2 separate regions of the Homo sapiens genome follow, and region 2 is linked to region 1. The links come from fine-mapping of genetic effects on gene expression. A gene starts in region 1. The other region holds a variant in brackets. All regions are shown on one strand. Distances are from middle to middle.

Region 1 (5,386 bases):
CATTCTGAACCCCCACTCCCACCCCACCACAGAGAGTATAGGGGCCTCCAGCCCAGGGACTATCATAGAATCATATCTACCCTTAGATCTGGATCCTGTTCTCTGGGTGAAAAAATGGGTGGATTTCAGCCAGAAAAGGAATACTCTAGACATATTTTATAAATCTTGGACCTCTTTATTATGAGAACAGACTATGAGGCAGAGCAGATGTAGCTGTTAAGGCCGTCTTTTGCAAAATTGAAGAAATTGTCTTTTCTAGTTATAAAAATAATATGCGTTCATTGTAAAAATTCAGAAAAATGCTGAAAACATTTTAAGGAAGATAAAAATCAACAATAATCTTTCTCCAAGATATGCTAAAGAATGTTTATATACACTGATATATTTCTTATGTACATATAATTTGAATTAATTTGTGTCTGCAAAACAGATCATACTGTGTGATATATACTATTTTGCAATCTGCTTTTTCACTTAACAAGATATGTTATGAACATCAATACATGTAAATAAATATAGATCTGCATCATAATTTTTGGCTACATATTATTTGATCATATGGACATGTGTGAGAATCATATAATACATTTAGCTTAGCTGAACAAGTGCAGACTTATTCAGTGAGACCTGGGATTATGTCTATCAGTTTATCCCCACAGCATGCCAAGATATCTTGCTTGTTAAATGAAATTCATAAGAGGCCATGGTTTTGGACTAGCCTCCTGTGCTAGGCTCCCGCAAATCAGACCAAACGGGAATGGAGTCACTCATGCTAGGTGCCACCTGATCCAACTGAGCTCTGAAACAGGCCAGTTTTTAAAAAAAAAAAGAAAAAAGAAAGAAAAAGAAAGGCCAGGAGAGTCATAGCAACCAATCTCAAGGGGCCCAGTTCACTTCAGCCGGCAAGCTAAAGAAGTCCCCTGGGTTTAAACTATACAAGGAAAATAACTTTGAAACAACCAGTCTGCTTTTCCTTTCACTGTTTCTGCTTTCTTCTGCCTTTTTCTGTCTGTAAAGCCCACCTCCTCTACTCAGCTCATGGGAACACTCATTTTATAGAATGTGGTGTTGCCCGATTCTAGAATTGCAAATAAAAGCCAATTAAGATATTTAAAGCAAATTTGTTATACTTTTGTCTTTTAGTATGCTCATGATAGATTCTCAACAGGGCTCAATCAAGCAGACCTTTGCAAAACTGGGGGTGCCTCTCAGGCTTTGGTGCGTATGCACATCACACGGGGATTTTGTTAAAATGCCGATTATGATATAGAAGGTCTAGGTGGGCCATGAGATTCCAGAATTTCAACAAGCTTCCCAGGAGATGCTCAAGCTGATAGACACTAATGTCTATCATTATTCAGCAAAAAGTCCGAAATGGCTTTTTGCACTTTATGAGTATAAAAAACCCCTTGAGGGCTAAATAATTGATTGGAAAAACAAATCTATGGAGTGCATGTATTTATTTGGTTGAAAGATGGCCTGAAGAGCTTTTTATAAATCTATGACCCTACTGGACCAGCAAGGATTTAGACTAGTCAACTAGGGGGGATTTTGCCACCCAAGGGACATTTGGCAAAAATCTAGAGAAATTTTTGATTATTATGATTGTGTATGTGTGTGAGAAAGAAAGGGAGAGGGAGATACTGGCATCTAGTGGGTACAAGCCAGGGATGCTGCCAAACATCCTACAATGCACAGAGAAACCTCCACAACAAATAATTATCTGGCCCAAATTGTCAATAGTGCCACTGTCAAGAAACTGATCTAAACTAGATTTTTTTTCAGATAATATCTCTCATCTGAACCATAGAACACAGAAAATTATTTTTTTGACTATTTTCTCAATTCTCTGAATTCTAAGTAACTGGTAGTAATCTAAATGCCTAAGAGACAGCTAATTCATTACATACAATGGATGCTTTCGGGAATTCCAGCTTAATTCTTGTCCAGAGCTCTTATTTAAAGCTGGTTGTGGCCAGGCATGGTGGCTCATGGCTATAATCCCAGCACTTTAGGAGGCTGAGGTGGGTGATCACCTGAGCTCAGGAGTTCAAGACTAGCCTGCATGACATGGCAAAACCCTGTCTCTACAAAAAAAATAAAAATAAAATAAAATAAATAATATATATATGCCAGGTGTGATGGCGTGCACCTATGGTCCCAGCTATTTGGGAAGCTCAGGTGAGAGGATTGCTTGAGCCTGGGAGGTCAAGGCTGCAGTTAGCCAAGATCGTACCACTGCACTCCAGCCTAGTGGCTCAAGGGAAGTCAAAACCTCATTGTTTCGTTTTTCTCTCTGCCTCCTTGTTTCCCTCCCTATCTCTTTCTCCCTCCCCCCCTCTACTTCCCTCCCTCCCCCCCTCCCCTTCCTTCATGAGTAGAGGGATCTGAAATGACTTTTTACACTTTATGAGTATAAAAAACCCCTTGAGGGCTAAATAATTGATTGAAAAAACAAATCTATGGAGTGCATGGATTTGTTTGGTTGAGAGAGTCTGAAGAGCTTTTTATAAGTCTGTGACCCTACTGGAGCAGTCTTAATGCAGAGCTGTAGCCAATAAAGCAAGTCCAGCCAAAGGTATTCAAGATCTGTACTTGAGTTTCTTGAACACCACAAAAGGGGTAATAGAACACGACAACATTTCAATACAAAGAAAATGTAAACATTTTGTTTTCTTCATTTTCTCGTATATATAGCTGTTCCCTCCCTTTCTTGATTGAAATACCACTCAATTCCTCCACCAGCCTTATCTAGTCTCAGACCTTTTATATTTCTCCCCAGTTACTCCCAATTCTGTGTCATAAAGGATCAAAAAACCAACCTTGCTGAGAAGAATCTTCCTTCTTTTTATTAGGTAGCAAGTGTAAGACTCAGGATTCCAAGAAATAAGCATCAGCCAGGAGGATTTTCAATAAACTCTTCTAGGTTACATTTCTACTCAAGATACCATTAGGTAAAACTGTTCAGTCTTCTGCTGATGAGACACCTTTTCTTGAATAATTTTGAAGTTCCAAACAGATCTGGAGACCCCAAGAAATAGGTCCACTTAAGGCCACGCTCCATGGACATAACATCCCTATGACTTCTCTCTCTACAAGGTAATCAGCCTTCATCATCAAAAGTGAAAATGACATTGATGAGATGCAATTCATGCTGGAGAATAGGGTCTGGAGGCAGGGCCAGTTTGCACCGACTTCCTAGAAATGAATCAAAAGGAAAACTCCAACTTCCCATGCTTAAGTAACAAAAAAACAGAGGCTACTCCCTTTGCAACCCGCACCCCTTTCTGCATCGCAGATGAGAAATGGCAAGTACCTCTGATTGGTCCCCTTCCTACAACCAATCAGACATCTGCATAGGGTATTACTTGGTAACTTCACTTCAGTCTGACTCGTCACCTTCCACAACCCATTAGACTGGTTGTGGGCCACTCCTTTATTTACATAGGGTGTAAACCAACTAACTACTGGGAAACCTCTAAAGGGTATTTAAACCCCAGAACGTTCTATAACCAGTGCTCTGGAGCCGCTGGCGCCTACTCCCACCCTGTGGGGTATACTTTCGTTTCCACAAGTCTGTGCTTTTGTTGCTTCATTCTTTGGTTGCTTTGTTTAATTTGTCCAATTCTTGGTTCAAAACGCCAAGAACTGGGACAAGTTGTAGTCAAGACCCTCCACCAATAACACAATTACGATTCTTCCTTTCCTATTTGGCAGAGTCAGACTTCCTCTTTTCATAAACAGAAATACGAAGTAGCCAGCAGGCCAAAATTGTCAAAACAAAGAGTGAGAGGTAAAGAGTGAAGAACGCCTGGTGATTTCCTTGTTTCACCTTCTTCCAAGCCTTGCTGTGCCATGTGCTCCTGGTGGCAGGTTACCCAGGAAGGAAGCATTGTAACTTTGTGGCTGACCAGGCAGGATGGTCACACGGCTCCTGACGCAGGCCCAGACGTATTCACGAATCACTCCATAGTGATTCTGATGTGCTGCCAGAGTTGAGAACTAAAGATTAAAGCCCTTGGCTAGTCAGGAGGATTCCATTCCTCCCCAACATGGGCTGTACCCTCATTTAACCAATGCCTTGCCAGCCCATGTTAGATGGATGTGATGGTTAATTGTATGTGTCACCTTGACTGAATTATAGGTGCCCATATTAAACCGTATTTCTGGGTATGTCTGTGAGGGTGTTTCCATATGAGTTTAGCATTTGCATCAGTGGACTCAGTAAATTGCTCTTCCCAAAGTGCATGGACACCATCCATTCGACCGAGTGCCCGAGTAGAACAAAAGTCAGAGAAGGGAGAAATTTGACCTTTTTTTCTCCCAGCCCGCCTGCTTGGGTGGGACATCTCATCTTTTCCTGCCCTCTGACTGGGATTTATACCATCTGCTCTCTTGGTTTCCTGGCCTTCGGACTGAATCTGAATTATACCACCAACTTTCCCAAATCTCCAGCTAGCAAAACAGCAGACAGTGGGACTTCTTAGCCTCCACAATCATGTGAGCCAGTTCCTCGTAATAGCTCTGTGTGTGTGTGTGTGTGTGTGTGTGTGTGTGTGTGTGTGTGTGTGTGTGTAAGGTCTCCTATTGATTCTGTTTCTCTGGAGAACCCTAATACAATGGACATCCTGTCTCTTCTAAGAAAACGGTGAGCCACATGCACCCCACAACACACACACACACCTTCCTTTGGTTTCCAGTTGTCTGGCATTTACCTTGGAGCAGAGCTTAAGTCTTTACAGTTGCGTAATTTAGGAGCACACACAAAAATGATGTTAGCAGAGAATATTTGCTAAGCAAATTAACAGTGCAAATAAGATTAGAGGGAGGTAAGGAGTATGTTTAAATGTTGAAATGCTTGAGGACAAACTGTGCTCAATCATCTTAAAACCATCCATTAATATGTAAGTAATTTAAAATTAATTGCAAATGCCTTTGCATTTAATTGCAGGCTATGCATTGTTGGAATGTGTGTGTGTGTGTGTGTGTGTATGTCTGTGTAATTGCTAATATATTTAGATTTCTAAAAGGTATATATATATTGTTAAAATAAGTAAATGACTGCTTTCCAACTGTTCTATGATTCACACATTTATATCACAAACATCCTCAACATACCAGTTTGTATCTATGGATTTGAATGAAATGGCATGACCACTACGGCCCGTATTTTGGAAACAGCAAGCCCCCGACTGTTCTTACAGCACCTTGCAAGATCCCCCACATACATATGGAACTTCCCAAAGAGTAATTTTCATCCATCTGTGAGTCACCTTAGGGGCACTGCCTGTCACTGCCTCTGCTATCCAAGTTCGGCCCCAAAGGGCCTCTGCTGCCTGTCCCACCACGGCCCTGACCTCCAGCACCTGCCTTGGCCTCTGCTGTT
Region 2 (5,386 bases), 34 kb before region 1:
TACTTTTCAAACATCTGGATTGCCATATTTAAAAGTGATAGAAAAATAAGAAAATATTACAGATTTTCTTGCAAAAAAGGTTAAAATATCTTCATGTCAAAAACAGCATAAAGAGAACTAATTTGAATACAATAAACTGAAAGAAATATTTGGAGCTTTAAACAAATTTAGAGGGGTCACACAATTTGATAGTCAAAACACCAACATTCCAAAAACCAATAGGTAAAGGAAATGGAACAGAAAACTCGCAAAGGAGGAAAAACGATTGGAAAGCTCAGTAGTAATAAAATAAATGGAACTTAAAACAAGTGTTACCATTTTTTAATTTATTAAATTCACTTTTATAAATAAGAATATTAAAAGAGCACAGTAAGGTGGGCATTTCCCTGCCCCACTCTAAGTGAAGATTAGCAGCCCAATTTTATAAGATAATTTTACATATAAGTAAGAAGAAATAAAAGGAAATACATAAATAAAACATCGTACCATGCTCTCTTCTTTTTCTCATTATTCAATTTGTAGCAACTCTAAGGAAACAACCCAAACTGTAGTAAAGTTTCTATGTGTAACAAGTACATTGTAGTTACAACCTAAATATCTGTCAATAAAGAAGTATGGATATAAATTTGTTCACCCTATGATAAGATATTATGTAGCTGTTAAATTTCATGAATACTTTTAAAATTAAAATTTGATAAATACACGTATTTTAAAAATTCAATTGTATTCAAAGTCTCATAGCAAACCTCAGCAACTTCATGCTCCATCCTTCCTCCCTCCCAGTTTATGCCACCCCCAGAGGCAGACATTTACAACTCTCCTGAGTCTCTACTATCAGAAACATTCATATTTCTAAACCAAGAGTGCCTTCTCTTGGTTTGTTAATCTGAGGCTTAATTCTTGTCTTCCTATTATGCTAAACAAAGATTTAGCTCTCTTTAATCTTTTTTCCCATGACATCCCCTTAATTCTCTGAATAATTATGTCACAATTATTCATTTAAGTAAAAGATAATGTTTACATTATTACTGTGTAAATATTGTTTGTTAGTAAACCAAATAAGAAAGGTTTACATTTCCTTATTTGTGGAATGTTTTTCTAATTATTGCATTGACATTATTTTGCTAAATTTTCTATGTGCCTGTTGATATACTTAAAAAATGAAATTCTAGGCCGAGCCTGGTAGCTTATGCCTGTAATGCCAGCATTTTGGGAGGCCCAGGTGGGAGGATCTCTTAAGGTCAGGAGTTGGAGACTAGCCTAGGCAACATAGTGAGACCACATCTTTACATAAAATTGTTAAAAATTAGCCAGGCATGGTGGTGTAGTCTAGCTACACCACCAGACTAAGGCCTGTAGTCTTAGCTGCTTGGAGCACTGGGGCTAGAGGAGTGCTGGAGCCCAGGAGTTCAAGGCTGCAGTGTGTAATGATTGTGCCACTGCACTTCACCTTGGATGATAGAGCAAGATCTCATCTCTTAAACAACAACAACAACAAAAAACAGATCTTAATTATCTTCCAAACAGCCCAAATATTAGATACCAGTTCATTTTTCCCTGGGAGACCCCTTCCCTGTCACCCTGTCCTTCACCTGCCTGCTCTGTGCCCAGGGCCCTCTCAGCCTGAGGGGCAGCTGTCCACCTGGCACTTCCCTTTGCCAGGGCCTCGTGTTAGGTCCCTTAGAGATCCCATTTTCTTTTTTCTCGATTAGTCCTTCACATTGGTAAAGAACAACCTCTAGCAGTTCCTAAGAAAGGGTGCATGGAAGGTAAGTATTTGGAAGCAATGTGTGTCTAAAAATGTTTATTCCATTCTCATGGTTATAGAATATGTAGAAAATAATTTCTTCTCAGAATTTTGAAATCCTTCCTCAATATAGTCTACCTCCCGATATTGATGTTGTGAAATTTGGTGTAAATATCATTCCTGATCTGTTCTGATCTGTTCCCCTTCTCCATGGGTGCTTTTTTCTTTTCGTTCCCAGTG[TTC/T]TCAAGTTTCATAACAATATTTTTGGCCTGGGTGTGTTTGCCTTCATTGTGCTGGAAATTTTATGAGCCTCTTAAATCTGGTGACTCATTTTTTTCATTACTTCTTTAAAAATTTCCCCCCGTTTTCCTGTTTTTCCTGGAAGTTTACTTAGTTAAGCATTGGACTTATTTGATGCTCTAACTTTCTTGTCTTTTCTCTGTCCTCTACTTATTTGCCTTTTAATTCTACTTTCTGGGAGAGTCTCCTGACTTTATGGTAGAATGCTTCTGTTGAATTTCACATTCAGCCTTCATGTTTCTGATTTCCAAGACCTTCTGTTCTTGATTGCTCTTATCCCTTACTTCCTTACACCTTACTTCCTATTTGTGTTTGCAGATGCCATATCTTCTCAAAGTGAAAAAATATATTTGCATTTAAACTGCTAGGCTTGGAAGTGACACCAATCACTCTGCTCACATTCCAGTGGGAAGAACCAGTCATTATGGCCTCACCTAGATGTAGGAGGTTGGACAATGTACTCTAGTGGAGTGTCCAGGAAGAGAGAACATTAGCAGCGTCTTCCACAGAGGATTTCCCTGGTTAGATTACCTTTGGTTTTCTGTTCATTTTTAAGAGCTAACTACTAAAAACTTTGTTGAAAGCCCCGTGTGTATATGCTAGACATGTCATTCCTTAACTGGAGATTACGTGGTAACAAGATGGCTTTTTTTGTTGTTGGGGGACCCTCAAATATCAGTATCTGAAGTTTTTTTCTCCAGGGACATTTTTTATTTGTTTTTGCAGGGGGCTGGGGAGTATATATTTAGTTGTTAGCGTTTCGAAGCAGAAGGAACAGAGCTAGGGAGGGTTTGTCTAATTCATACCTAAAATTTCACTTAATTCTTCTGAATTTATGTCCAGGTTTCTTTCTCCTCCTCCCCTTCTGTGTTTGGTTTCTCTGAGTCCAGATTTTCTCTGGTTCAATTTATTTAGAGACTAAACTTCAGGTTTCCTGCGGGAGAGGAGGGGGCTGAGAATCCAGCTAGTTCCACGTTAAGACATGAACCAATCCTCCTGCATTTGGTTCTGCATCTCATTCCACCCCTCAGTAATACCTGCTGCCACCAAGTCCTGGGCCTTCCTGAGTTCTGTAGGGTGAAATAGTCATTCTTGGCCTATCTATCACTGCAGACCTTGGGGTTGTGGCCTCTGCTCTGAAAAATCATAACATTGCTTCTCCATGAGCTCCTAAAAAATTATTGCAGAGTCTTACTTGCTCTTGTCTTTCTCTCATTCTTTGTCCCTGTAATTGTATATGTTTTAAACTCCTTTACTCTCATCTTAAATGGATTTTAGAAAGGAGAAGATATGAACAAATGTGGTCAATATGTCATATCCAATGAGAAGCTTGTAAGTAATTTCATAATCCTCAGTATAAAAAAGACATACAAACTGTATAAATAGTGCGATCCCAAGCAGGTTAAAATGTATAGAAAAAATATAGGAAGGAATACATAAAATGTGAATTTTTTATTACTTATGTCTGACTGATGGAATAATAGTAATTTTTAGTTTTCCTTAAATCTTTATTTATTGATTTATTTTATTGATTTTTTTTCTTTTTTGAGATGGAGTCTCACTCTGTTGCCCAGGCTGGAGTGCAGTGGCACAATCTCTGCTTGCTGTAACCTCTGCCTCCTGGGTTCATGCGATTCTCCTGCCTCAGCCTCCTGTGTAGCTGGGACTACAGGCGTGTGCCACCACGCTCGGATAATTTTTTGTACTTTTAGTAGAGACAGGGTTTCAACCGTGTTAGCCAGGATGGTCTCAATCTCCTGACCTCGTGATCTGCCCGGCTGGGCCTCCAAAAGTGCTGGGATTACAAGCGTGAGCCACCATGCACGGCCATCTCAACTCTTTTATTTCTAAGTATTCTTGCTGAGCATGATTGACTTTACTATTACTATTATTTTTGAGACAAGGTCTGGTTCTGTCACCCAGGCTGGAGTGCAGTGGTGCAATCTTAGCTTACTGCAGCCTCAAACTCCTGGGCTTAAGTGATCCTCAGCTAAGCCTCCTGAGTAACTGGGACAACAAGCGTACACTCATGCTGGCTAACTTAAAAAAAATTTTACAGAAACAAGGTCTCGCTGTGTTGCCCAAGCTGGTCTCAAACTCCTGGCCTCAAGGCATGCTCCTGCCTCAGCCTCCCAAGTCACTGGGATTAGAGATGCAAGCCACCATGCCCAGCTTGAGTATGACTTACTTTTGTAATCAAAATAAACTAAATATTTTTTAAAAATACTCTTTAAAGTAGAGAAAATATTAAGAGGCAATTAGGAGATTATCTCAGTTGGAAGTGTTTTTCTCTAGGCATAGCATGTACAATTGAAATGGATCTTGTGGATTCTATCACCAATGGATAAGTAGACACACATAATGCTAACATTGTATGTTTGCTGTGTGTCAAACACTTTACTCAGTATTTCATTTAATGGTTATAATGATTCCAGAGGTAGGCATTATTTTCTTCCCCATTTATAGATGAGGAAACTAAGGCGCAGATGTAGGAAGTACATGGTCCCATGCTGGTATATGAAGAGCCAGGTTTTGGACCTACTAAGTTTAATTCTAAGGAGACACCCTTAATCATTATATTATAGTCTCTTACCACATTTGTATGTGTTTGCATATGTTCTTAGCTAATTCTTTAAAATAATTGTGCTTATATCTATACATATATTTGTTTAGTGAAGAATATGCATAGGCTCTTGAACAAGTTATAAAGTGAGGACAAGAATAGAGGTCAGTAGGGCATCTCTCTGAGAACTGTGATAATATATACCAGAGGTGGCTACACAACTACCTGATTCGGAATCCTCATCTCTTTTTCTTTCCTCTGTACTTTTCCATACCAATAAATAGTCTCCCACCCTTGGCACAGGGGAGCACTGGGCTTCTGAGTGCATTCAGAAAACAAGCAACACTTACACCTGTTTAGCCTCATGTTTCCTAACAGCTTTAGAAGTACAATATGGCCCTAGGTCTTTGTTTCAGTACAGTAGGTGGAGGGGGCTTCTTGCCAGCCAGAAAGCGTTAAAAGTTCATGGCAGCTGCCTAGAAACCACTGCAATGTTTCCCATAAGAGATGAATAAGCTAGTTTAGACTCCCATGTATTTCCAGGAATGTAGGAGTGTTCGATCTATTGTTCTTTCCATTCTATTGTTTCAGAGCTCTAATTAAATAATGCCACATATAAGATTCCCCAACGCCCTAAGAAAATATATAATTTGAATTATTTGGGACGGCCTAATTGTTTTTTTCTCCCCCCCCCGCCCCCCCAAGACAGGGTCTCGCTTTGTCACTCAGGCTGGAGTGCCGTGACACGATCATAGCTCACTGCAGCATCTGACTCC

What was found. PIP is the estimated chance that this variant, and not a neighbour inherited with it, causes the effect.
Region 2: its variant is fine-mapped to the expression of LINC02122 in nasal epithelium (TOPMed, PIP above 0.99).

What each region holds. Positions count from the first base shown.
Region 1 is chr5:74,099,918-74,105,303 of GRCh38, forward strand. It overlaps LINC02122 (long intergenic non-protein coding RNA 2122), which reads right to left and starts at 3,211. Exons shown (of 3, transcript NR_183289.1): 1 at 2,823-3,211.
Region 2 is chr5:74,065,900-74,071,285 of GRCh38, forward strand. All of the region lies in intron 2 of LINC02122 (long intergenic non-protein coding RNA 2122), which reads right to left. Among named protein-coding and RNA genes, the nearest start is that of LINC02122, 35 kb to the right of the region's middle. RefSeq lists an enhancer at 3,953-4,453. The variant TTC/T (reference allele first, on the strand shown) is at 1,988.